2 separate regions of the Homo sapiens genome follow, and region 2 is linked to region 1. The links come from fine-mapping of genetic effects on gene expression. A gene starts in region 1. The other region holds a variant in brackets. All regions are shown on one strand. Distances are from middle to middle. Region 1 holds the start of PDCD6 (programmed cell death 6). Region 2 overlaps PDCD6 (programmed cell death 6).

Region 1 (2,733 bases):
CACGAAGGCAGTGCTGTCTTGCGGGAGGCAGGGCTGCACCACCACCGGGGTGTGAAGGGGCCCAGCAGGCAGGGGTGTGAAGGGGCCCAGCAGTGTTTCCAGCTGCACGGGGTCAGGGGCCGCGCTGATGCAGAGCACGGGGGCGCAGGTTAAACCTAAAGGAGGGAAGCTTTTGGGGGCGGAACAGACAACCGAGAATGCTGCACACTGCCTTTCCCACCCGAATTGTGTTTTGACTTTTTTTTTTTTTTTTTTTTGAGACAGAGTTTTGCACTTGTTGCCCAGGCCTGGAGTGCAATGGCCCGATCTCGGATCACTGCAACCTCCTCCTCCCGGTTTCAAGCAATTCTCCTGCCTCAGCCTCCCGAGTAGCTGGGATTACAGGTGTGCACCATCACGCCCGGTTAGTTTTGTATTTTTAGTAGATACGGGGTGTCTCCCAATTGGCCAAGGCTGGTCTCGAACTCCCGACTTCAGGTAATCCACTGGCCTTGGCCTCCCAAAGTGCTGGGATTACAGGCGTGAGCCACCGCGCCCGGCCTGCTTTTGCTTTCTTTTTTTTTTTTTTTTTTTTGGCAGAGTCTCGCTGTCCACCCCTGTAGTGCAGTGAGCTCGGCTCCCTGCGGCCTTGACCTCCCGGGCTCAGGCAATCCTCCCGCCTCAGCCCACGGAGTAGATGGGACCACAGGAGCCCACCACGCCCGACTACTTTTTGTAATTTTTGTAGGGATGGGGTCTATCCATGCTGCCCAGGCTGGTCCGAACTGCTGGGCTCAAGAGCTCCGCCCGCCTCCGCCTCCCAAAGGGCAGGGATCACAGGTGTGAGCTACCGCGCCCCGCCCAGAGTTTCCGACTGTTAGCAAATCACATTCACCTCAAAACTATTTATACAAGAACTGAAAGGCAAACTAAGTCCGTGCTCCATCACTTCCTGTCCCAGGTCGCGGGGCCGGACATTTTCTCCAAGCGCTTTCCTGGCACAGCGCGCAGGCGGCCTGCGCCAAAGCTCTGGCTTCCTCCAGGCGCCCAGACCCCGCCCTCCCCGCAGGCGCCAGGGCGTTGCCTGGCAACTTAGCTGCGAGGGGATTGGCTGCGCGGGACCCCGTGACCATCCCGGAGACCACGCATTTCCTGCGCCCCCGGAAGTGGTGATAATGCCAGGCCCTGCCCCCGGCAGAGGCGGAAGCGGAGTCGGCCTGAGAGGTCTCTCGTCGCTGCAGGCGCCTCAGCCCAGCCGCGTGCCTTGGCCCATGGCCGCCTACTCTTACCGCCCCGGCCCTGGGGCCGGCCCTGGGCCTGCTGCAGGCGCGGCGCTGCCGGACCAGAGCTTCCTGTGGAACGTTTTCCAGAGGTGCGGCCTGGCACCGCCCGGGCACCTCCCGCCTCCGCCGCGGCGGCCCCGACCCCTGTCCCGACTCCCCCGACCAACCCCGTTCCCTGCCGGTTCTACTGCGGCCTCCTCCGTCCCCTGTCGGGTCCCCCGCGGCCCCCTCCCGTCCCCTGCCGCCGCCCCCGACCCCTGCCCCAGCCGACGCGGCCGCCCCCGTCCCCTGGCGGGTCCCCCGCGGTCTCCCCCGTCCGCTGCCCGGTCTCCTGGGGCCGCCCCTGCCTCCTGCCCGGTCCCTGTCCTGTGCGTCGGGCCCTTCCCAAGATGCAGAGTGCGCCACTGCAGACCCGAGGTCGCGGCCACCGGCTCCTGGGCTAGGCCCTTTTTCTCGCCTCAAGAGCCGCCAGGTGGAGGGTCTCCAGGGTGCTTGTTTGGGGAAAGCGGAAACAGACTGCCTGGGCGCTGTTAAAATGTCAGCAGCCAAGGAAGAAGCAGCGACCTGGCGTCTGCTCGGGCCAGGTGACCTTTATGGCGGCGCCTTCTGTCCCTGGTCGCTTTTCCACCGAATGTCCGAAACTGTAGTGACTGATGGCCAGGGAATGGCTTAGTTATCTGAGGGAATCTTGTCTTGTCTGTGAAAAAGGGAAACGGGTGCAAATGGGAATTCAGACAGGCCAGGAGAGGAAGGAAGGGAAGGATTGAGGTGAAGATGATTGTCCTCTTAGGGGAAGACCACACTGGACGTCGGCTCCTGGGGCACTTCCTTGATTCCGCTGTACTCCTCAGCGGGACGGGAGAGGCGGAGGTTCCAGGAGGGAGCCTTCCAGAGTCGGTGCAGGGTTGACAGAAGACGTTTGTTTTGCTTTTCCTGAACTTTCGATCGCCAGCTTATTTGGTCTTCTTGATGTTATAGGGTCGATAAAGACAGGAGTGGAGTGATATCAGACACCGAGCTTCAGCAAGCTCTCTCCAACGGTGAGTGGGCCAGTGGGAACTGGGTCTCCGGACCAAGAAGCCGCGAGCCTGCCCTGTTCACAGTGGATAACTTTCTGAAGTTGTTTTTCCAAGGACAAAGGAATCATTAGGACAAATTGTTATTACTGCTTCGTAGTGGAGATGCTTCTGGTTTATTTTGTGGCTACCGCTGTTACTGCTTGGAGTGCCTCACCGAGCCAGCTAACAACTGCGTGCGTGAGCACAGGGAAAGGCTTCTTGAGAAATGAAAACTAGATTGTAGGTTTAGGAGGGGAATAGGAAGCTTAGCTCTGTACAGCCGAAAGCCTTTTGGTAAGTTGGAGGTCCTTGAATTTCCTGGGTGACTGCATCTTGGTGACTTCTCTGAATAGACCTTCGAGGGCACTGGGGGGTGATTGTTGGAGGGCTTGGGGAGCTCAGGCAGCCCTTGT
Region 2 (3,016 bases), 40 kb after region 1:
GGAGGGTCCGAGGCAACTCCGCTGTTGCACATTTAGGGACCCCTGAACTTAAATGACAGAATGCCCTGACCACTCTGGAAGGCACTGTGTTCATGTTTGTGTGCTTGACTCTTGATCCGTAAAATGGCTGTTTGTGCAGGTCATTAACTGTGAGATTCAGAGAGTAGGTGCACACGTCCCTGCAGAGATTCCAGCAGGACTGAAAACCAGTAGAAATATATCAGCACCTGGATCTTGCCTCCTGAGTCAGTAAGGATATGCCACAGTCACGAAGGCAGTGGGATTTCGAGGGAGGGAAGGGAAGGCGGCAGGCGGGGCATGCCCTCCGGGGTGCCCGAACACACCTGCTGCATCCACATGTCTTCAGAGCCCTCTCCCTGTGGGAGGCCTTTTTCAGGACAGCCTTGGTGAACTGGAAACGGAATCCCAGCCCTTGGTGGCCCTGCAGTGACTTGGACCTTTCCGAGGTCACCCTGCCACTGCGTGCCCTTCAGTCCCTCCTGGCAGGTGGGGGCACATCCCCCAGCCACTCCCATTTCCTGACATTGTCACTTTGTATAACTGGAAGCCTTCTGTGAAATTTTAGTTTTCAAAGCATTATCTGGTGATGGGCAACCCAGGGCAGCGAATCATTCAGAATTTTCTTATCTAGGCTAATAAACATAATAAAATCAATAAGGACTTTGAAAGTAACTCCACTGGGTTCAGGAAACTGAGTGTGGCCGCCCTGTGGGGTGGTGTTTGGTGAGTGCTTCCCGGAGGTGAGTAGTTAATTCACAGGAGTGACTAATGGCAGCGTCCCACTCACTCCTCCTTCCGGGGTCATGGTCTCAAGGGGTCACTCCATGCACTGGGGATGTCAGCTCATTACAGAATGATATATTCGGGAAGTGTCTCAGTTCTGAGTGCCTTTGAGGGAATTTGCACTTCCGTTCCCACACAGCCTTGCATTGTGTGTGTTAGAGGCTGTGGGCCTTGGGCAGGAGGGGTGAGTGTTGGCACATACCTCCCGTCTCTCCCAGCCTTCTCTGACTCTGACTTTCCCTCTTGAAGGCTACCGGCTCTCTGACCAGTTCCACGACATCCTCATTCGAAAGTTTGACAGGCAGGGACGGGGGCAGATTGCCTTCGACGACTTCATCCAGGGCTGCATCGTCCTGCAGGTGACGGAATGGCTTCACGTGGGTTTGTGGTGGTGGTGGGAGGGGCTTGCTTGCCAGCGTGATGCACCTGACCTTCAATCTAAGGAGCTGGGCATGTGTAGAATTAGTTTTTGGAGCTTATAAAAGTGAGTCTCATCTTTGGAGAAGTAGCCGGTTAGTGAAGTGTGGACAAACATGTTTTCCTCCCCTTGGAAATGGCACAGAGCAGCCCATCTGCAAGACGTGGTTTTTCAGTATCCGGTGGGTTATTTACATGTATGTTCTGGTGTTGTGGTTTTTTTTGTTTTTTGTTTTGTTTTGTTTTGTTTTGAGACCGAGTCTCGCTCTGTCACCCAGACGGGAGTGCAGTGGCACGATCCCGG[C/T]TCACTCCCACCTCTGCGTCCCGGGTTTAAGCAATTCTCCTGCCTCAGCCTCCCCAGTAGCTGGGATTACAGGTGACACCCAGCTAATTTTTGTATTTTTAGTAGAGACGGGATTTTGCCATGTTGGCCAGGCTGATCTCAAACTCCTGACCTCAAGTAATCCGCCCACCTTAGCCTCCCAAAGTGCTAGGATTACAGACATGAGCCACCATGCCTGGCCAACTATGGTGTATTTTTACAAAAACTTTTATTCTGAGAAAATGGGCACGTTTTCTGTTGTGGTCATCACTGTGTCCTGCCGTCTGTGTGTGAGGTCAGCTGTGGAGCCTGTGGTCGCTCAGGCCGCCCTCAGTGGGGTCTCCGAGCTCTTCCCGTGCACTCCAGTGTCTGCAGGAGCTGGTAATGCACCCTGACCTGCAAGGCAAGCTCCTTGGTGGTGTCTCTCCTGCTGGGCTCTCTTTGAGACCCACGGGAGATGGAGAGCAGGGCTCAGGGGACCCGCCTGGGAGCTCCACACAGACCTCTGCTGCTGTTTGCAGGTGGTGATCCAGGTCTCTACCCAGGTTCCTCAAGGTCCTGTCTTGTTGGCCTTGGAATTCAGTGAGAGATAGGAACAGCATGGGGTTTTTAGAAATAATGTGGAAATTTGGAAAACGTTCCCAAATTGTTTATTCTGTATAATAATTAAGATGCTAGATCTGTAAAAGTGAGTTTCCTCTGATTTGGCATGGATGCATCAGTCCCTGTTCTTCAGGGATTTGTTGGAGAACCAGGTCTGTGAACATGGAAGCTTCAAAACTCTACGGTTGGGGACCCTTTCCTGCCCCTGCCTCTCGGGGTTCCTGCCAGGTTGGATGACATTTTTACAATGTTCTCTGAACACTTTCAAAAAAGTGTAGGCTGGGCCTGGTGTCGCATGCCTGTAGTCCCAGCTACTCAGGAGGCTGAGGCAGGAGAATCACTTGAACCCGGGAGGTGGAGGTTTCAGTGAGCCGAGATCACACCACTGCACTCCAGCCTGGGTGACAGAGCCAGACCCTGTCTTAAAAAAGAAAGAAAAGAAAAAGGGAAAAGATGCCGTGTAAAATCTCGTTCTGTGTCTGAATTGCCGTAGGGCTCAGATCTTCATTTGAGGTTCTGTGTCTGAATTGCCGTAGGGCTCAGATCTTCATTTGAGGTTATGTTCTATAAGTTAACGTTGATCTTGTGTGAGCTTTCGGTAGCTGGAGTAACACAGGCGGCCTCACAGCGACCTCTCCAGCGCCTTCCAAGGCACATCTGCAGCCAGCGTAGCTCCTCCTGGGAGATGCCTCCTCAAGGCCCTGCTCCAGACCACGTGGGGAGGGCCTGACAGCCAATTCCCAGGCTGTCCCCACCCTTGGAGAGTGACCCTAAACGCTAGACAGATGGGGAATGGGAAAGAAAAGAAAGCTGCAGACCTCAAGTTAAAATTCCCTCAAAAACGTTTTTATTTATCTGCTTTTTCTGAAA

What was found. PIP is the estimated chance that this variant, and not a neighbour inherited with it, causes the effect.
Region 2: its variant is fine-mapped to the expression of PDCD6 in whole blood (TOPMed, PIP above 0.99).

The regions. Positions count from the first base shown.
Region 1 is chr5:270,471-273,203 of GRCh38, forward strand. PDCD6 (programmed cell death 6) reads left to right here and starts at 1,176. Exons shown (of 6, transcript NM_013232.4): 1 at 1,176-1,351; 2 at 2,241-2,302. The coding sequence starts at 1,251. It overlaps PDCD6-DT (PDCD6 divergent transcript), which reads right to left and starts at 1,054. Exons shown (of 2, transcript NR_104613.1): 1 at 875-1,054. PDCD6-AHRR (PDCD6-AHRR readthrough (NMD candidate)) reads left to right here and starts at 1,176. Exons shown (of 13, transcript NR_165163.2): 1 at 1,176-1,351; 2 at 2,241-2,302. RefSeq lists enhancers at 1-217, 879-968 and a silencer at 1,259-1,468.
Region 2 is chr5:310,240-313,255 of GRCh38, forward strand. PDCD6 (programmed cell death 6) reads left to right here. Exons shown (of 6, transcript NM_013232.4): 5 at 1,054-1,163. The region is part of intron 3 of PDCD6-AHRR (PDCD6-AHRR readthrough (NMD candidate)); the gene reads left to right. Among named protein-coding and RNA genes, the nearest start is that of AHRR, 10 kb to the right of the region's middle. The variant C/T (reference allele first, on the strand shown) is at 1,526.